Linked DNA regions of Homo sapiens: regions 1 and 2 are each reported to be linked to region 3. Evidence: microRNA targets listed by miRTarBase, many of them from high-throughput screens and not tested one by one. Region 3 holds a microRNA gene; each other region holds the end of a gene's coding sequence.

Region 1 (7,198 bases), not on the chromosome of region 3:
AGTTATTTTGCTGCTTATAAATTCATTTTGCCATAGTATGATAAATAGCTTTTAATGTTGTAAGCAAATAGGGCATTGGATAGCAGCACTAAGTCATTGAAAACAAAAACTTCTTTATTGGTGTTTGGTTTTTATATAGTTTAGGGAAAGGCTCTTTAAACCAAGTTTCAGGTGAAAAAATGAAAAAACTTTTTAAGGATTTTAGATAACATGCCAAGCACAGTGACTCATGCCTGTAATCCCAGTAGTGAATCTGAGAAGCGCAGGCTTCCCAGATCGCTTGAGCTCAGGAGTTGAAGACCAGCCTGGGCAACATAATGAGATCCCGTCTGTACAAATAATTTAAAAATTAGCCAGCCATGGTGGTGTGCGCCTATAGTTCTAGCTATTTGGGAGGCTCAGGCTGGACGCTGAGCCTGGAGGACCACTTGAACCCAGGAGTTGGGGCTGAGTGAGCCATGATCGTGCCACTGTACTTCAGCCTGAGTGACAGAGTGAGATCCTGATGCTTAAGTTTAAAAAAAAAAAAAAAGATTTTAGATAACAACTATGGAAATGAAATCATTTTCGTTTGGTTTATATCTTCTCCACATCTTTTCTAACTTTGCGTTCTATTCTTAACCCTAAGGTAAAAATGCATTTGCAAAGGGAGAAAATGAAGGCCAAACAGAAGCAGGCTCCAGCTTCTGCAAAAACTTGGATTCACAAATGTCCCTGAACAGAAAATGAAGCTCACTTCAGAACACACACTCTCTGCCTTGAAAACTAAAGAGACTATTACTTCCTTTTCACATGACCACAAGTCCTCTGATGGAAATGTACAGCAGAAACTCTTGAGAGAGAGGCTAAAAGCAACTCTGTTCTCCCCCTTCCCCTAGACTTTTCTTACGAAAAGTCAATAATTAAGCAAATTGCTTAACACTTGGTTCCAGTTCCTGCCTATCTGGAGTTTAAATGCGTAATACACCATTAATTTCCACGCTGCAGTTTTTATTTTAAAGAAAGTAACAAGATGTCTTTACACTGACACTGAAAATTCATCCATTTTAGAGCCAGGAATTCCCATGTTACACAGGAAAAAATAGAAGTCTACTGAATTAATTTTTTAAAAGAAAAGAGATCAGATTAAATATTTCTTTGTTTTTCCTTTTGGAAACTTTTATGTATAATTCTTTCTGCCTGCCTACTTTTCTGCAAAAATGAGATGTACAGATTTCGGTTCCCTGCTATGAAAAGTGATGTGGTAGCAATTTTATAAATGTTGCTTTCTGATTTTTATCAGAGTGAGAAAATTAAAATTATTGATTTGCAAGTAGTAAACAGTTCATATTTTGATTTCCCCTCATTTTAGTTTAATATAATTTGCAATAAATGTACATATTGTTGTTTGTTTCATAAAGCATATCACTTTAAAATGGTTTTTACTCCTGTGATTATGTTGGAATATTTGGAATTTTAAAGGAGTAAAGACTGTCCAGCATTTGGTTTTATAATGTTTGTCACCAGATTTTTATTAATGTAAAAAAAATCAATTTTTAAAAAATAGTTGGACTTTGGCAGCTTTTAAGGAAAGTTGGAGGTGTTTTAGGATTGCTATCAATTTTCAGCATTGTGCTATTTGGAAATAAGTGTTTTGCTTTTGTCTGATGGTCTGGGCTCATTTTTATGTTTATTTTAGAAAACTGTTGCATCAATATATTATGTTTCTTGGCATTGTTCAGCATAGGTAATGTGTGCACTTTATGTGTACACATAATCATATTTAAGTTTTTTGCATAAAATAAATGCTTCTAGATGTCATGGCAGTCTTTTTAATCTTTTTATCATATGCTTTCTTGTGAATTTTTTCATGTTAAAGAGCTAAAGTCATAACATGATTACAGTCAACTCTCCATTATCTATATAAAATAGTGACTAAGCCTCAGGTTTTTAATTTTGTGATAACAAAATAACGAAGGCATGTAAGACCTGATTCTGGAGGAACATGAAATTTGTCTTTTCTCATGTCCAGAGTTCTATCCTGCCCCCACTGTCCACTGTAGGGTCATCCGCAAAGCCCTAGCAGAATGTGCTCACTCCATTTCCTTACACGTTTCTAGCATGGGTCAGAGGAAACAACATTTGTGTTATAACTTCGTCTTGATAGGCTGTAGTGTACATGGGATGTAAAACAAACAAGTGTATCAAAGGTGGATGATTCTGTTAGAGTGAAGTTTGAGAGTAAATGTCACTTACGTTTCTCATAGATAATCAAGAGTTGGCTGTGTATTGACTGAAAGATGGGTAATTATTTTAAATATGCATTTACACACATTTAGGTATCAGAAGATGCTTAGGGAACAATGGATACCAATGATAGAAAATGATACCTTTACAGGGGCAGAAAAATCCCCACTCTTCCTTATTGCCTCTTCAGAACCCTTTAGAAAGTATAAAATATTGCCTCCAACATGCTGAAAAAGAGTATCTATGCATAAGTATCAGAGAAGTCCCTCAAGCAATCAGTAGGTGTGTTCTATTTAGAGAGAGTTTAAAGTTCTCTTAGCATCAGACAACTTGATTCCTAAGGTTTCCAGTGTGTCACCAACAAAAAGTGCATTGATAGGGACCTTTGTCTCTTCCTCCCTTTGATTAATTGCCCGGCATCACAGTTTACTAGATTACCAAGTGTTACATCATATTAAATAAAATGTAGCAGAACCATCTGCATCAATATATTCCTGTTTAGATTTTTGCAGGAGAGAAGTTAAAAGGATTTGCTCCTTGTATGATGTAAGTGGCCCACCCCAATTTTGTAACATGATGCAAGTGTCTGGCACTAAGGGAAGCAAGAGTAGGGTTGTGGAAAGACCAAGCTGATGGGGAGGGACTTGTTTACGGGAATTTTTTTAGTTTTCCTTTTCAAAGGAAAACATTAAAATCCCTTAGGAATTTGGTATTCACATCTCAGAGAACTACAACACAAAAGTGCAGACTTATATTTGAGAATTAATGTTAACCCTTTGTGTCTAGTTTGAAGCTTCTTGTATTTGTCTAAAACAACAAGCCAGAATTTTGTATCTCCTTTGATAAAAAGTGTGTATAATGTAAAGTAGTTTTGCATATTCTTGTGCTGCACATGGGCTGAATTTTTAAATTTTTTTTAAAAACTTGAAGCAGAACCTTGTAATTTGTGTAAATGACAAGTGTAAAATCCTACCATAAAATGCTAAAAATATGCACTGTTTCAAATAAAACCAAGAAATGCAGCATTATATAGTAGTGTGGAGCCCTGAATATTCATGTACCCCTGGTATGTCACAAGTTGATAAAATGTCTCTGCATATTTTCTGTTGAGATGCTGGAGTCTGAATATCCTAATTAGAAATCAAAAGCCACCTTCAAACTTCCTGGCTGGGTACTCTGAGGTAGCTTACAGTGGCTAAGGAAGAACATAGTGGATGATAAATTCTGAGGCACATTCGGAATTTCCAAACGAGGTTTGTTTTAGGGGGTGGCTTTTTTTTTGAAATGAGATCTTACCCTGTTGCCCAGGCTGGAGTGCAATGACATGATCATGGCTCACTGTAGCAATCCTCCTGCCCCAGGCTCCTAGAAAAGTGCTGGGATTACAGGCCTGAGCCACCAGACCTGGCCAAGAAGTTATTTTTTTAACCTAAGAATTTAATAGCAGCCTTTGATTCATATTAGTCTATGGTTCATCCATTCATTGCAAGTTCTGCACTCACATATTTAGTTCCATAACAAATTCAAGAGAGCAAGCAGATTACATAAATGTATCTGGAGTAAGAGGTGACCAGAACGAGAGGTAAGAAAGTCTATCATGGCTGGGCGCAGTGAGTCACACCTTTAATCCCAGCACTTTGGGAGGGTGGCCGAGGCAGGTAGGTCACTTGACCTAAAGAGTTCAAGACTGGCCTGGGCAACATGGTGAACCCTGTCTCTACCGAAAATACAAAAATCAGCCGAGTGTGGTGGTGCACACCTGTAGTCCCAGTTACTCAGGAGACTGAGGTGGGAGAATCCGTTGAGCCTGGGAGTCGTCGGTTGCAGTGAGCCAAGATCACACCACTGCACTCTAGCCTGGGCAACAGAGCAAAACTGTTTCAAAAATAAATAGGCCAGGCGTGGTGGCTCATGGCTGTAATCCCAGCACTTTGGGAGGCTGAGGCAGGTGGATCACCTGAGGTCAGGAGTTCGAGACCAGCCTGACCAACATGGAGAAATCCCGTCTTGAATAAAAATACAAAAAAATTAGCCAGACTTGGTGGCGCATGCCTGTAATCCCAGCTACGTGGGAGGCTGAGGCAGGAGAATCACTTGAACCTGGGAAGCGGAGGTTGTGGTGAGCCGAGATTGCGCCATTGCACTCCAGCCTGGGCAATAAGAATGAAACTGTCTCAAAAATAATAGGCTGGGCACGGTGGCTCACACCTGTGATCCCAGCACTTTGGGAGGCTGAGGCAGGCAGATCACCTGAGGTCAGGAGTTTGAGACCAGCCTCGTCAACATAGTGAAACCCTGTCTCTACTAAAGATAAAAAAAATTAGCCAGGCATACTGGCGCACGCCTGTAGTCCCAGCTTCGCGGGAGACTGAGGCAGGAGAATCGCTTGAACCAGGGAGGCGGAGGTTGCAGTGAGCCAAGATTGTGCCACTACACTCCAGCCTGGGCAACAGAGCGAGACTCCGTCTCAAAATAAGTAAATAAAGGCCTGAAACGTACATTTTGCACCACTGCACTCCAGCCTGAGTGACAGGCTGAGACCCTGTCTCAAAAAAAAAAGGAAAAGCTATCATGCCTAGTTTTGTATTTTACCCATAATGGGTTGACCTTCCACCCCCAATACTTGCACTGACAAGACTTTTTTGTCTTTGCTACTCACATGAACTGTCCTGCTCTGACAAGCAGCTTTGTAGCCTGCTTAGGTAACGGTGACAGCATTTCCTACAAGGAGTTCGCTATAAGCCAGCAAGGTAGGGAGGATGGAAATGAGAGTGCAGAATCAAGTGCCTTTCTGCTGTAAACCATACCTTCAACTTTTCATTCCCATGAGAGTAATAACCTTCATTTATTTCACTATTGTATCATAGTTCAAAGTCTTAGCAGGGCAACATACAACCCATCTCTACCAAAAAATTAAAAAAATAAGACAGGCATGGTGGTGCGTGCCTGTTTTCCCAGCTTCTCGGGAGGCTGAGGTGGGACGATTGCTTGAGTCCAGGAGGCAGAGGCTGCAGTAAACTGAGATCACACCACTGCATTCCAGCCTGGGTGACCAAGACCTTGTGTCAAAGAAAAAAAAGCCTAACGGGAACATATACAGGTCTCATTTCTAAGGAACCTGGGCCAGGCTGCTGATCAGTACTTCAGTTTTGGGGTGTTTCTCAAATGTTTCTTTATCAATACTGATTGCTAACTTATCTCCCCTCATTCTCTGGTTACTCCTGTTGTTCTTGAGCAAGGACCGTGTCATTCTGAATAAAACCTGTTATTTTTAGTAAATAGCACTACATCCATTCTTCCTGAAGAAGCTTGAATAGTGACATGGTTTGGCTCTTTGTCCTCACCCAAATCTCATCTCAAATTGCCATCCCCCACATGTCGAGGGAGGGACCTAGTGGGAGGTGATTGAATCTGGGGCGGTTTCCCCCATGCTGTTCTCTTGATAGTGGTTCTCATGAGATCTGATGGTTTAAAAGGTGTGGCCCTTCCTTGCTCTGGCTCTCCCCTGCTGCCGTATAAGAAGTGCCTTGCTTCCCTTTCCCCTTCCACCATGATTAAGTTTCCTGAGGCTTCCCCAGCCATCCGGAACTGAGTCAATTAAACCTTTCCTTTCTAAATTACCCAGTCTCAGGCAGGCTTTTGTTTTCTTTTGTTTTGTTTTGTTTTTTTGTTTTTGAGACGGAGTTTTGCTCTTGTTGCCCAGGCTGGAGTGCAATGGTGCGATCTCAGCTCACTGCAACCTCCGCCTCCTGGGTTCAAGCGATTCTCCTGCCTCAGTCTCCTGAGTAGTAGTATTTTTAGTAGAGACGGGGTTTCACCATATTGGTCATGCTGGTCTCGAACTCCTGACCTCAGGTGATCCACCCGCCTCAGCCTCCCAAAGTGCTGGGATTACAGCCATGAGCCACTGCACCCAGCTTCAGGGAGTTCTTTATAGCAGCATGAGAATGGACTAATACAAAAAAAACCACTAGAAGTCAGTAAGACATGTAAGGAGCCACCGTAGTGCTGATTCTGGATCTGCAAAAGCCAACTAGAAAATAGGGAGTCGCCATTTTTCATCATTTCAGGCATTTGTAATCTGTAGAGACTAGGCACGATGCCAGGAGCCGACATTAAAAACACCAGGATTGGTGCCTTACAAGGACTAGCAACATAACACAGGCAGCTGCGACTGTTCCAGGTGATACATTTTGTGTGGACTTCAGAACCCTGATGGATGCCGTAGAAGCAGAAAATCCTCACCTTTTCTACTGAAGTGCAATTCTGAGAACTGTTATGAGCATGTAGGTGTCTAAAGAAGTGACTGGGCCAGGCGCAGTGGCTCACGCCTGTAATCCCAGCACTTTAGGAGGTCGAGGTGGGCGGATCACCTAAGGTCAGGAGTTCAACACCAGCCTGACCAACATGGAGAAACCATCTCTACCAAAAATACAAAATTAGCCAGATGTGCTGGCACATGCCTGTAATCCCAGCTACTTGGGAGGCTGAGAGGAGAATCGCTTGAACCCGGGAGGCAGAGGTTGTGGTGAGTCAAGATCGCGCTCACCGCACTCCAGCCTGGGCAACAAGAGTAAAACTCCGTTTCAAAAAAAAAAAAAAAAAGAAGAAGTGACTGGCCTGAGCAAACTGCCCTACCTCAGGGCACAAGGAGCTGGGCCTGAAGCTGGAGGTGGCTCTCCAGGCTGAGGGCTGGGGAAAGACAAGAAGGCCACCACTTCAGCGAATCCCAACACTCCTTAAACCTCCCTGGGCCTTAAACTTCCCTGCTCTGGGGAAGAGCTGGTCCCAGCCCTGAAACCTCTCTATCCACTGTAGTCCTGAGGGACAGGGGACACGCCCCACTCAAAGCACAAATTCTGTGTGTCAGTAATTCCTGTGGCTCCTTTGGACAAATTTTGTGCCACCTTAGGAGCTTAGTGGACTTCTCCAAAGCAAGGCAGCCCGCGAAGCACCCATTTTTCAGAGCCTT
Region 2 (7,198 bases), not on the chromosome of region 3:
GGCGAAACACTATCTCTACTAAAAGTACAAAAAGTAGCCGGGCGTGGTGGCGGGCGCCTGTAATCCCAGCTACTCGGGAGGCTGCGGTGGGAGAATCTAGGAGGTTGAACCCAGGAGGAGGAGGTTGCAGTGAGCCAAGATCCAGCCATTGCACTGCAGCCTGGGCAACAGGAGTGAAACTCCGTCTCAAAAAAAAATAGTAATAATATACTTGATCTTAGCCAAAAGGCCGAGAAGTGATGAAAAAAGTTATTATTATTATTATTATTATTACATCACCTAGCCCATATAGGACTGGCCTTGTAGAAACTTAACCTAGACTCTTGAATTTGTTGAGTCTTTGAGCGGCACTCCCATCCTTGTACAATGCAATTAGAAGCCAAACAGTAAAGGTTTCTCAGCCTCAGCACTGTTGACATTTGGGGCTGGGTAATTCTTGTTGGGGGGCTATCTTGTGCATTGTGAAATGTTTAGCCATATCCTTGGCCTGTACCCACTAGGTGGCAGTAGTACCTGCGCAACCCCACTCCCGCTTCCCCCTCCCCCGCCCCCATCACAGTGTCTCCCGATACTACCCAGTGTGCCCTGAAGGGGCAAAATCACCCTGGGTTGGAGACCGTTGCCCTAAAGTAATGCTTTTCAAAGGTAATAGGCAAGATAATTCAGGGTGGGCTGCAGTTTCCCAGCCCAGATATTGTTTGAAGTCTGGGATGGTGCCAGAAATCTGCATTTAATTAAGCATCTCCCTCCCCTAATACTGCCACCATTTTGATATAGGTGATTTGAGGATTACACTTTCATAAACACAGCACTGGATATACTAGTTACTAGGGAGAGGATGATGAGTAACTAACTTGAGCTTGCATTTTCTGCCATCCATATTTGTTTCTGGAATTAAAACTGTCCTGTAGCCAGGATAACTTTAAGGGCTCCCCTGGTAGTTATAAGAGCTCCTTAAATAATGGGAAGGTTGAACTACACCAGTAGATAAAGGACTAATTTCCATTTTGTTTTTATATATGATCTGTCACCCCGTTATAAGCAGTTCATGACGGTGTTCTTTCTAAATTATTTTCTGGAATTATCTAACTGACATCTTCACTCCACAGCCGTTTCCCTGGGGAGATGGTAACCATACTCTATTCCATAACCCTCATGTGAATCCACTTCCAACTGGCTACGAAGATGAATAAAGAGAATCTGGACCACTACCCGGGCACCAGGGACCACAGCACTGGTTTGGACCGTTACTCTGCACATGGACCAGAAAAAGTATATGGGACCTTAAGCTCACCTTCTTTACTTGTATCAAATGATGACTGGTATACTGGTCTCCCATCCCTTTGCTTGTGGCAGGAGATGGCTTAAATAAATAACTTAAATTTAGATTGGTCATGAGCTGAGAGTTACTTTCTTTGGTTGTGTTTTTTCGCAGAAATTAGCATTTGAGCTTCAAGTCAGTGTCCAAGTTGAAAAGAAATTGGCATTAGTTATTTCTGTTTCCACAGTGAAGGTCTAGGCTGCTGTTTAGTGTTACAGGTCCAATTCAGCCCATTGAATAAGTGTTTATAACAGCCCCTCTTGGTTTATTGTGCCTGATGTGGATAAAGGGACCAAGTGGAGTGGTGCTAATTAAGCATCAAGATTAGTCCTTGGTCAGGTGCGGTGGCTCATGCCTGTAATCCCAGCACTTTGGGAGGCTGAGGCTGGCAGATCACCTGAGGTCAGGAGTTGGAGATCAGCCGGGCCAACATGATGAAATCCTGTCTCTACTAAAAATACAAAAATTAGTTGGGTGTGGTGGCGCACTCCTATAGCTGGGTGTAGAGGCTTGAACCCGGGAGGTGGAGGTTGCAGTGAGCCAAGATCGTGCCACTGCACTCCAGCCTGGGCAACAGAGTGAGACTCTGTCTCAAAAAACAAAAGATTGGTCCTTGACGGGCCTGAGATATCAAAGACATTGAATGGCTAGCAGAATGCCTGCAATTTACACCTGAAAGAGGTATCTGTATTTCTCAAGAGGAAGTGCTTGATCTGGGTCTCATCTTTTTCCTGTCCCATTCCACTAGCATTTACTGCAGAATCTTCCCTGTAGTCATAATTTTCTTGAACATGTCAAGTTCTTTTTTTTCTTTTTTTTTGAGACGGAGTCTCTCTCTGTTGCCCAGGCTAGAGTGCAGTGGCACGATCTCCACTCACTGCAAGCTCTGCCTCCCAGGTTCAAGCCATTCTCCTGCCTCAGCCTCCCGAGTAGCTGGGACTATAGGCACCCGCCACCACACCCAGCTAATTTTTTGTATTTTCAGTAGACACAGGGTTTCACCATGTTAGCCAGGATGGTCTCGATCTCCTGACCTCGTGATCCACCCGCCTCAGCCTCCCAAAGTGCTGGGATTACAGGCGTGAGCCACCGTGCCTGGCCTCGAATGTGTCAAGTTCTTACTTTGAGGTAATCTCCTTCAGGGCTGGTAGGGTCAGAAATCTTAAGAGAAACAAAGGGAGCGTGACACATTTCTGCTTATTGGCTTTTCTGTGGAATTAAAACTATCCTGCTTTAATGGATAGTAAATGGTAGTAGTAGTAGTTACAAAACCACTCTGAGAGGGCAATTATTATTATTATTATTATTATTATTTTTTTTTTTTTTTTTTTTTTTTTGAGATGGAGTCTCGCTCTGTCGCCCAGGCTGGAGTGCAGTGGCGGGACCTCGGCTCACTGCAAGCTCCACCTCCCGGGTTCACGCCATTCTCCTGCCTCAGCCTCCCAAGTAGCTGGGACTACAGGCGCCCGCCACTACGCCCGGCTACTTTTTTGTATTTTTAGTAGAGACAAGGTTTCACATGTTGGCCAGGCTGGTCTTGAACTCCTAACCTCAGGTGATCTGCCCACCTCAGCCTCCCAAAGTGCTAGGATTACAGGTCTGAGCCACTGTGCCTGGCCAGAGCTGGTTTATTTTATTTTATTTTATTTTTTGAGACAGAGTTTCGCTTTTGTTGCCCAGGCTGGAGTGCAATGGCATGATCTTGGCTCACCACAACCTCCACCTCCCAGGTTCAAGCAATTCTCCTGCCTCACCCTCCTGAGTAGCTGTGATTACAGGCATGTGCCACCACACCTGGCTAATTTTTTGTATTTTAAGTAGAGATGGGGTTTCTCCATGTTGGTCAGGCTAGTCTCAAACTCCCAACCTCAGGTGATCTGCCCACCTCAGTCTCCCAAAGTGCTGGGATTACTGGCGTGAGCCACCGCGCCCAGCCAGCTGGTTTATTCTTAAGGCTCAAAGGAACACTTTCGTGGTAAGGTTCAAGAGGCAACAAGGTATTTCATATTATATTACATTAAACTGGTAACGCAAAAGTAAGGCATATACAGTACGGAATAGAGAATCTCATTGTCTTTGCCATTTTGTAATAATTAACGGAATAGAGAATCTCATTGTCTTTGCCATTTTGTAATATTACAGCCTGCACTTCTGAGTCCCTATAGAGCTGTTTTGGTTGTGGCCAGTCTGAGTTTAGGACAGATGCATTATACTTCAGCTTGCTGCCTGGCCTCCCTTGGCTGGGTTCCAAACATCTTTTATAATCCTTGGATAATGGACCCTAGCCAGTCATAAAATATAAATGAAGAATGTTTTGAAATGACATTAAGGACAAGTCACATTAAATATGATGTAGCAATTGGTAAAGTGGAGAAAAGACAATAGAATTAGGGCCTTCTATAAATCAAGTTTCTTGGTTTATTTTTCAGACAGGGTCTTGCTGTGTCACCCAGCCTGGAGTGCAGTGGTACAATCACAGCTCACTGCAGTCTCCACCTCTCAGGCTCAGGTAATTCTCCCACCTCAGCCTTTAGAGTAGCTGGGACTACAGGCACACACCACCATACCCAGCTAATTTTTTTGTAGAGACAGGGTTTCGCTATGTTGCCCAGGCTGGTCTCAAATTCCTGAGCTCAAGTGATCCGCCCATCCCAGCTTCCCAAAGTGTTAAGACTACAGGCATGAGCCACCATACCCGGCCTGTAATTCAAGTTTCATACTACTTTGGGTATCTAATAAAACCAAATTACTCAATTAATTGTGGGGATTACGTGACATTCTGAGGTAAGTAAGTGCTCTCCTGATCCTTTTTTGGTACCGTAGTGTATTTGTATAGCCTATTGTGGAAATTTTAGAAATCAGTGAGGTTTTGGCTGGGTGCGGTGGCTCATGCCTGTAATCCCAGCACTTCGGGAGGTCAAGAGTTCAAGACCAGCCAACATGGTGAAACCCCATCTCTACTAAAAATACAAAAACTAGCTGGGCATGGTGATGCATGCCTGTAATCCCAGCTACTTGGGAGACTGAGGCAGGAGAATCATTGGAACCCAGGAGGTGGAGTTTGCAGTAAGACAAGATTGCGCCACTGCACTCCAGCCTGGGTGACAGAACCAGACTGTCTCAAAAAAAAAAAATGTGAGGTTTCTGATTGCCATACTGTACCACCTAGCTTAAGACAAGTCACTTTTTCTTCACCTTTAAGTTACAAAACACAAAACTCTCCCCACTGTATATATGAGGTTTGTAGGGTAACAGGGTAATAGTTCCATAAAATGCACTGAGTTCCAGAGGCAAATAATGATAGAAACTAAATGTTACAATTTATTCCATCTTCAGGATTACAGACATTACAGGGCAGGATGAGTAAACAAGGCAAATGAAGCGAGCACCTTCAGCTTCCCCCCTACCCCGACATTTAACCAGATGCAGCATTTTGACATTTTTAGGATATGCAGGTTGACAATTCACTGACTTGGGTTGAGAGCTGGCAATAGCAGATCTTTGCAATTTAGGTTCTTCCTCCACAGCTATTCCAAGTATCTTAATTCCTGAACTGCACACTGAGAGCTCTGAAATGGTGTTCACTGCAACATTCTTGCAGCTTTCACATCTTAATCTGACACCTCTTGTGAAGGCAGGGAACTGTGTTAAAAGCTGTCTTCCTCTTTGCTAATCCAGGCCACCATCAATCTTAACCATTAGTTACTATATAAAAATAAAAGTGTGCTCAAAAGCACTCACTGAAACTGTTGTGCCCAGATCCCTTTTCAGAGCATTAGTTCCCTGAGAGGAAAAAAAGAGGTCCTAACCAATTGCTTTCATAAATAGTGACCCCAGTACAGTGTATATGTCTTTTGCAGCAGAAATCAAGAGGTCAGGCAGCTCTGCTCATCCTGACTAGTTTATCATCGTTTGCATACAAGGTATATTTATGTAAAGCTGATTCCACGCCAAGTATTGCAACCATAATCTCAAAAAAATTGTTCAATTTTAGCACACAGTTCCTGCAAGATACCACAGCAGGTGAGAAATCATCTCAAAGAGTTCATCTTTTACAACTGAGAGGAAAACATCGAAGGAGGAAATAAAACTCCTCTCTCCTAAGTTCCTCATCAAATCTGATGGCTATGTTCACAGAGTTAGTTGACAAAAATCCAGAGTCCTCAATTTCTGGACTTGCGAAATCCTTCAAGGTGACTGTCAAGGTCAAGAAGAATTTTCAGGCTTTTCTTTGCCATGGCCCATGAACTCCAGTCCTTCAATAGGAATCTCTTTCTCCTTTATTGCTTTCTGGTAGGAGGAGAAAACACATTATAAAGACCTACATGAAGCTTAAGTTGCAAGCTTTGTAAATAAAATATGACAGTACAAAAGTAAAATCAAGCTGATTATAAAGACTTATAACCATGATTCAAACCACATACTTTTTAAAAAACAAGTACCGGTCAGGTGTGGTGGCTCACGCCTATAATCGCAGCATTTTGGGAGACCAAGGCAGGTGGATCACTTGAGGCCAGAAGTTAGAGACCAACCTGGCCAACATGGCGAGACCCTGTTTATACTAAAAATACAAAAATTAGCTGGGCATGGTGGCGCATGCCTGTAAGCCCAGCTACTCGGGTGGCTGAGGCATGAGAATAGCTTGAACCTGGGAGGCGGAGGTTGCAGTGAGCTGAGATTGTGCCATTGCACTCCAGGCTGGGAGACAGAGTGAGACTCTGCCTCAAAAATAAATAAAAACCAGAAGTACCATAATGAATAAATCAAGTGTAAGACCTGAGGGAGACTGGAAAAGGAGTTGTGAGGGAACCGTTAAAATTAAGTGAAATTTGAAAAATAATCATCACTTTGTGTTAGTGAAAGACTTAGGTTCAAATCTGGGTTCCAGGACTTACTGGCTATGTGACTAACTGTAAATGGGATGAAGACAGCAACTACCTCGGGGAATTGCTGTGAGGATGTGTTGGGTTAACTTATTGGAAGTGCTTTGCCCGGTGCTGTTCTTAACAATTCAAAGCAGTTCCACATCCATTGGGCCAGAATAAACATTTCCTGGCTGCAGTTGCGGGGACTGGTCAAGAGAGAGAAACAGGCTAACGAAGGGTTTATAACAACAAAAAAATGTGACCCTCCAGTCTGAATTCTGAAGTATAATCCCGCCCAGACCCCAGCAGTAATAGTGGAAAAGTGCACCACCTGCGAAAGAACCAAGGAAACCTGATGCTAGTGAACTCGGATTAATCACTTCCTATTTCTGGGTGTTAGTTTTTTATGTATAAAATATGAGTAACTATGCCCACCTTGCGAGTTTAGGGTGAACACCAAATGAACCAAAGGATGTGACTGTGCTTCTTGAAAAGCACTGCCCCAATATTTGTCATTCGGAGAGACACCCAAGTGGCCTCGGTGGTGATGGTAGGGGAGCGAGCTCCTGCCACTGGCCTCACTGCGACTTTTCTCCACCCTTCCAGTCCAGTCCCAATCCCCGTAAAATACGATGAGTGTGGTGGGACACAGCGCCGAGAATGCAGGGCCTGGGAACAGAGGCGGGAGGGCTCACCTGAACACACTGCTGGTAGCGCTTGAAGAGGTCGGTGCACGGGTCCCCGGAGCTGTCCCCCTTGAGAAATTTCTCGGCGAACCAGCGATTGAAGCACTGGTCGTACTCGCGCTTCATGTCCGTGCATGCCTCCCCCACACTGTTCATGGCGACAGTGGTGGCGGCGGCGACGACGGCGCACTCTGATGTCATCACTCTCAGGCGCGTCGCTCGGCGTTACGCGCGGGCGCACTGCGGGGGCCAAGGAAGGAAGAAATGTGGTCGCGGTTGGTGTGGCTGGGCCTTCGGGCCCCTCTGGGCGGGCGCCAGGGCTTCAC
Region 3 (7,198 bases):
CAGGATGTGAGACGTGACATTTCAATGAAATCAACTTAGCACGACTTCTCTACTATCCTACTGAACTTGGGGAGTACAATTTTACAAGTTGCAGCCTTCTAGCACTTCCAATATTTTGAACTTTCTAAACCTGCCTATTTAGCTATGATTTTCATTGCAAATCCCTGTTTTTCAGTAGTAGGACTTTATTAAAGATAGGATAATATCACACACAATACAATCTTCACTGAATATGTGTCTAAGCAGACCTACTTGGAATTCTACTAGATAATAAAGTTGCAGGATTTAAAAGAAATACTATTCTGCAGGTCCCATGTCAGAAAACACAGATATGTTCAACAGATTGGTGTGGTATTTATATGGTATTCGTGGCATTTTCCTTATAGTATTCAAAGCATCAAAATGACAAATCAAGACTGTTAAAAACCAGTCTTGGACAAGGGTGACAGTCACATACTCGAGGGTCCAGCACAACACTGGCATGAGCCAACAGGAGCCACGCCGGCCACCTGCTGGGCCAGGGACCACTGCAAAGAGCAGCCCTGAATTTGGGAGGGTCAAATCGAATTTACAAATCTTGTTTTCAGGAATTTCCTTGATAGTTCTCTTTCATGGCAGAAGACCTATACCCGTGATGGAAAACAAAAGAATGTACACATTTCTAGTGTGTCATGAATGGGTCTCACTCACAGATAGGTACAGACATCACTGTCACTGCTAACACACAATGAAGTCTGCCTACGCCTACCTGAGGAGCATCCGCGATACCGTTTCTGATGAGGACAGGACTCTGCGGAGGTGGGCAGAGCAGGGGGTGCTTTTGTCAGCTCTGCTGGTCACTTCCAGGCTGCTGGTACACACCCCAACAGTGGCTGCAAAGATTGTTCAAAACTTCTGCTGAGGCCACAATGATTACGGGATGGTTGTCACAATTCACAAAAGGTATGATACAAAAAACAAAGGGTATCACCATTACGTCGCCGGCGAACTGAAGGGGTACAAGACCGAGGAACCAAACACAAGCTGAATTCAAAACGAAAAGAACCCCAGTGGCAGAAAAAGCCACGAATTATTTAATGAAGCAAGTTGTGCTAATAAACAGCCTGTGCTTTTCTTAACTGAAGGTCACTTGATACATTTCCCAACACACAATTTTTATTCAGATTATCTTTGTTTTCATGGAGAGCCTGAATTTTGAGGTACGATCTAGGAAAAAGATGTTATCACCCACACAAATGGAAGGCTCACTTCTTTACTTCTTAAGCTGATGATACCCTTTTGCCCGCCCCATGTACCAGATCCTACATGATTTTTTAAAATAAAACATAAGTCAATTTCAATGAGCATATGCTAGACTAACAATAAATTTATTTTTTGGAGTTTCTTTTGAAGCACAAATTCCTTTTAAAAAAAATATGAAAAGGTGGTCTCTCCTGGAAACAAGCAGTTCTAGTTTCCGATCCCACAACGATTTGGAACATAGTGTGTTTTTAAGTCAGAGCTGAAGAGGAAAGAAGGAAACAAGGGCTGCGCTCCGCTCTGGCGAATGCGAGCTGCAAAGGGACAGAGGAGGACCCACACGGAGGGTCCCCACCCGGCTCTGCGGACAGACATGGCAGAGGGCCTGTCACACAAGAGGCCACCGGGCCGAGCACGTCCGGGAGCCTGGGGCTGCACTGGGTGCTGAGGTAGTGAGCGGGGCCTGTGCCTGCCTGCCCTCCCGGCTTGGAGGGGGAGCCCTGAGGGCCTCTGGGGCTGGCCTGGAAGGTGTCATTCTAGCCTACAGGTGCCTAAGGCGCTGGGATGTGTCCTTGGCGGTGCCTCAGAAGGCACCTGGGTCCAAGTTCTGACCTGGAGCCTTGGGGACAGATCTGACTCTCACAGCCAGGGCCAGCTGGTTGTGGAAAGTGCTAGTATGCAGGTCTGCTCAGGGATCTGTGAGGCTCATGCTCTGGCCATTATGTGGTCTGAAGAACCAGAAGGGCTATTCTCCTCGCCCCCAACAACCCGCCCCAACTGCACCTTTCTTTTCCTTTTTATTTTGGATACATAATTCAAGCAGTAAAAAAACCAGGCTGGAAGAGGGTTGGGACAGAGGAGCAGAGGGCAGGGTGGGAAAGCTATCCCAAGAAGAGTGAGTAAAAACAACGACTCCGAACATGGCCAAAATACCCTTCCTCCACCTTGACGGCAATCCCTAAGCTGGCAGAGAAAGATGCGCCGACTGCGAAGTGCCTGTTTTCTCAGAGATTCCACCTAGCAGTGTCCATGGGGAGCCACAGTGGAACATGGAGAGAACAATCAAGGCTGGTTCAAACGAAAGGTTATTCACCAGTGAAAGAAACGGGGAGAAGACACAGCCGGCTAGCTCTGAAGACATGGTGTGCATCCCAGCCTATAAATCTCTAATGATCTTGATCCCGTGTTTCCCCTATTTCTGAGCAGACCTTTTTTTTTAATTTTTTATTTTTTTGTGAGACAGAGTCCCCCTCTGTCGCCCAGGCTGGAGTACAGTGGCACAATCCTGGCTCACTTCAACCTCTGCCTCCTGGGGTCAAGTGATTCTCCTCCCTCAACCTCCCGAGTAGCTGGGATTACAGGGGCCCACCAACACACTCGGCTAATTTTTGTATTTTTAGTAGAGACGGGGTTTCACCATGTTGGCCAGGCTAGTCTTGAACTCCTGACCTCAAGTGATCCACCTGCCTTTGCCTCCCAAAGTGCTGGGATTACAGGCGTGAGCCACTGCACCCGGCCTGAGCAGATCAAAAACAAGGCAAGAGGGGTCAGGACACACAGGCAGAGGCTCGTTCCCTCTCCTTCCAGAGCTGAGAATAAAACTGCAGTAGACTTTCACCAGGGAGGAGGACAAGACAAAACCATGACAACAATCAGGTCCCTTGGTGACGACGTGCCCCATCAGCAAGGCTACCCACCTACGGAGTGGGAAGGTTGCCGTGCCAACCTCCCCTAGGGCAGGAGAAACAACTGGCATATGTTCAAATGATCAATATCCCACCCCCCGCAACAAAACTTTTTTCTGAAATTTCATATAGCAACGTGCTTTCTTGAACCGAGACGTAAGACTTTACATTTAGCCATTACACTATGAAGAGTATTGCAGATCTAACACCCAACACATCTTGCCCAGCACTCTTCTTTGCCTTCTATATTTTTATTCAAGTTATGGATACAAATGTCAAACAGGATGCTGCTAGAGTAGCTCACCTTAAGTGATCTTGCCAAAGATCCGTTCTTGCCAACACTGTCTGAACCTGGCTATTCAGCCGACTTCTCGGTCCTTTGTTAAATCCTACTTCTACTTCCCTTTCTTTCTTTTCTTTTGAGATGGAGTTTAGCCCTTGTTGCCCGGCTGGAGTGCAACGGCACCATCTCGGCTCACCGCAACCTCCGCCTCCTGGGTTCAAGAGATTCTCCTGCCTCAGCCTCCCGAGTAGCTGGGATTACAGACATGTGCCACCATGCCCGGCTAATTTTGTATTTTTAATAGAGACGGGGTTTCTCCACGTTGGTCAGGCTGGTCTCAAACTGCCGACCTCAGGTGATCTGCCCGCCTTGGCCTCCCAAAGTCCTGGGATTACAGGCGTGAGCCACCGCGCCCGGCTGTTCTACTTCCTTTTCACATTCAGAGATCAAGAATGACTTTATCAAATGTCTTATTGAAATCAAGACAAGCTGAGCACATTATATACTCCTACCTCTGCCAGTCTCATAACCTAACCAGGAAAAGAAGTGTATGATACCATAGAAGGATTAAGTAGTTCACTGTTTGTACCACTTTGTTAAATAACCTTCTTTATGCAAAGGTACAAAAGTTCCACACACACAGACACATGCACAAACACACATGCACGTACACACAAGTACTTGTAACACATATTTGTTTGTTTTTAAGTTTCATGTAACATCCAAGTTAAGAAAGCACAGTTAGGTCTACTGGTCTAAAACAGAGATCTAGGAATTATCTCGTTTCTTTGACCAATACAGATTACTACCTTTGCTATTTCAATGAAAAAAAAGGAAAATTCAACTTTAGTAAAGAGTTTTAAGTATTATTAGAGAATTTCACTGGGCAAATTCTAAACAGAGGGTTATTTATAACAAACTCTAAGTATTCTAAACACATATTTTGGGCTGTTTCAGCTATCTAGAATTGTGTTGAATTTAAATACTAGAGATGTAGATGGAGAGAGGTGATATGGGTCTAGAAAGCAAATCATTTTCTGGCTGGATGCTCACACCTGTAATCCCAGCACTTTGGGAGGTTGAGGCAGGCGGATTGCCTGAGCTCAGGAGCTCGAGACCAGCCTGGGCAATATGGTGAAACCACACCTGTTCTAAAAATACAAAAAATTAGCTGGGCATACTGGTGTGCACTTGTAGTCCCAGCTACTTGGCAGGCCGAGGCAGGAGGATCCCTTGAGCCTGGGAGATGGCGCCACTGCACTCCAGCCTGGGTGACGGAGCGAGACTCCATCTCAAAAAAAAAAAAAAAAAAAAGTATTTTATGAACACCAACTTCTAATACATTTACTTGTATATCATGTGGCAGCAGACGTGAGAATGTGGAAAGCTATAAGGCCTGGGACACTCAGTGCAGGCAGCCTTGGCCTCATCCACAGGGCCTCCCACCACCCCATGTTGAGAGGTGACATAATCATGGTGGCAGCAACAGTGGTCACTGCACACAAGGCACTCTCCCAGCTGCTTACAGTCATCACCCAGTTAATCCTCACAACAACCCGCAGAGGTGAGTCCTCCTGCTATTCTTCTTCCACATAAGAAACGGAGCCTTGGGAGCCTTAAGAGCTTCCCAAGTCACAGAGTAGTAAGTGTGGCAGAAGCCCCCAAGCCCAGATGCACCTGCCACCAAGGCCTATGCTCTCAACCACTGGGTTTGTAAGGAAAGTATATAAAGATGATTGCCTGAAAATAATTAAAATAACAAAGTTTGGGGTTTAAGTTAAAGGAATAAGCCTTTGTTCTCATGGAAATCACTTCCAGGAAATGTCTCATGTCCTGAGCTAAGTCAGTCTCATGTCCTGAGCTAAGTCAACAGGGTGCTAACAGATTGTCATTGGAGGAGAAGCTTTGTCATTCTACTATTGAAAGCAAGCCCTTTACTCTGAAAAGCACAAGCATAAAAATTAAATCTTATTAATACACAACGACAGTTAAACTTGGCTATACTTGGTACAACTTAAGCACCAGATTTTACCTGGTGCTTAAGTTATACCAAATATGCCAGGCTTTTAGAAATGGGCATAACTCTTTTGGCCACGGCATCACTGAACTCCTCCATTTAAGTAGAATGTGTACAACTGTGCCCTGAAACTGGGCCATTATTACAAGATCTCCCGAGAGGAAGAGTCTTGCCTACAACTGGTGAGCCTCCTCATCTTCTTCCTCCTGACTTGGTGACCAGGCAAGCTGACAGACACTAGGGAGGATGGAGGCGACCACGTGTGGAGTGCAGAAGGCGCATACCGGAGGAAGGTGAGGGATGTTCCACAGATACATGGAACAAATCACATCATTCATGATTTTCAGTATCATCCAACTCTATATAGTTCTGCCAACCTCAACTCTGCACTGAGGAAACACTTTAAGTGAGGAGGATCTTAGCAATGAGTAGATTTTCATCAAAATTAAAGATTTCTGGGAAACAATAGCACCTTATAAGAAATGAAAAAAATAGTATCCTCAAGCACCCAAATCCCAAATACTGGGTCAGATGACAGATAGACACATTTTCTTGTCTGATGCTAACAAGAATGGAAATCGAGCCCCCTGTTTTACACAGCAGTGGCGTTTAAATAGACTACTTTTCTGCATTATGAAAACAGCCTTTTAAAGACTCTTTAAAGTTCAAGTTGAGTTTCAAGTAATCAGTTTGCAGCAACTCTAGGAGAATTATTATTCCTCCTGGTTGTAAGTGCTTTTTTTTCTTTTCTTTTTTTTTTTTTTTTAAGTAGTAAAATGGAAAACAGGCCTTAGAGAATTGTATTCCTCAAGGCCTCTGACTGCCTGCTTCCAAGCTTTTGTTAAAGAACAGAATGTGTTGAATTCTTCTCAATTGGCAGGGGATCAAGCACAATACTACATAATGAGGTAGCTGAGAACAGAGTTTTTCCTATAAACACAAAGAACAACTGAATAAGTGCATGTAATTCTCATCCAATTAAACAGGAAACATGATAAAGCAAGTTAGTACAGTTGTATTTAAACCAAGTTGACTGGTATAACTTGAAAAAATTTAACCCAAGTTTCTAAGGTATGCCTTATTCATAACTGATGAGTAAAAACAATAAAAATAAGGTACCCAAACCTATTACTTGTAATGAAATGCTAAAAATAAGATCCTAATAAATATAATTCACCAACCAGAAGACAGATGAACCTCCGTTTGGGATGTGAATGATTTGAAATGGCCGTTCATTTACGTGGATCCTATTCAGTGTCTACTCGTTCACTTCATCTTAAGGCCGTGTGTCCCCCGGACTCTGTGTGTTGCCATCCTTTTCCACCTGTTCCTTCTCTAATTCATATCACGACTGTACAATTTCTGGTTTTCTTTCAATGTGTGCACAGAAGGAAGCTCAACAACTTTGTTGAGCCAGGAAGAAATTATTATCAACATTTATAATCAGGCCAAATTTCAGCTGAGTAGTGACTTTAAAAGAATTAGTTTTAATCTCAAAATAAAAAAAAAAAAAGAGGGCAGGCGAGGTGGCTCACACCTGTAATCCAGCACTTTGGGAGGCTGAGGCGGGCGGATCACGAAGTTTAGGAGATCGAGACCATGCTGGCTAACATGGTGAAACCCCGTCTCTACTAAAAACACAAAAAATTCGCCGAGTGTGGTAATAAGCACCTGTAATCCCAGGTACTGGGGAGGCTGAGGCAGGATGATTGCTTGAACCCAGGAGGCGGAGATTGCAGTGAGCCGAGATCGCACCACTGCACTCCAGCCTAGGCGACAGAGCGAGACTCCGTCTCAAAAAAAAAAAAAAAAAAAAAAAAAAAAGAGAGGGCAACAGTCATTTCTGACTAAATAATTATATAATGTAGTTTTATTTATTTGATGTTTAATTTCATGAAAAGGGGAAGGGGTTTAAAAATCCAATCACTTAGAGAATTTCAATGACAGAACTGAAAAAGAACAAACTTTCTACGG

What was found. The annotated mature microRNA hsa-miR-4720-3p reads UGCUUAAGUUGUACCAAGUAU and lies in region 3 at 5,208-5,228, opposite strand. An mRNA with a match to its seed (bases 2 to 7 or 8) in the 3' UTR can be bound and repressed. Matches are read on the target gene's strand: a 7mer-m8 pairs with bases 2 to 8, a 7mer-A1 pairs with bases 2 to 7 and ends in A, and an 8mer does both.
Region 1: miRTarBase lists PDS5A as a target of hsa-miR-4720-3p. Seed matches in the 3' UTR shown: 7mer-A1 at 903-909.
Region 2: the mRNA of COX6A1 is a reported target of hsa-miR-4720-3p. Seed matches in the 3' UTR shown: 7mer-m8 at 1,284-1,290.

Annotation. Positions count from the first base shown.
Region 1 is chr4:39,818,919-39,826,116 of GRCh38, reverse strand. It overlaps PDS5A (PDS5 cohesin associated factor A), which reads left to right. Exons shown (of 33, transcript NM_001100399.2): 33 at 629-3,254. The coding sequence ends at 632. Among named protein-coding and RNA genes, the nearest start is that of UBE2K, 120 kb to the right of the region's middle. RefSeq lists an enhancer at 5,381-5,918.
Region 2 is chr12:120,439,345-120,446,542 of GRCh38, forward strand. It overlaps COX6A1 (cytochrome c oxidase subunit 6A1), which reads left to right. Exons shown (of 3, transcript NM_004373.4): 3 at 1,110-1,386. The coding sequence ends at 1,193. It overlaps TRIAP1 (TP53 regulated inhibitor of apoptosis 1), which reads right to left and starts at 7,040. Exons shown (of 2, transcript NM_016399.3): 1 at 6,882-7,040; 2 at 4,620-5,611. The coding sequence starts at 7,028. The coding sequence ends at 5,528. It overlaps GATC (glutamyl-tRNA amidotransferase subunit C), which reads left to right and starts at 7,100. Exons shown (of 4, transcript NM_176818.3): 1 at 7,100-7,198. The coding sequence starts at 7,137. It also overlaps the pseudogene LOC124903126. RefSeq lists enhancers at 6,222-7,069, 6,381-7,198, 6,795-7,198, 6,942-7,198, 7,070-7,198.
Region 3 is chr16:81,383,093-81,390,290 of GRCh38, reverse strand. It overlaps MIR4720 (microRNA 4720), which reads right to left and starts at 5,273; the gene lies at 5,198-5,273. GAN (gigaxonin) reads right to left here. Exons shown (of 11, transcript NM_022041.4): 11 at 1-7,198. RefSeq lists a silencer at 3,223-3,417.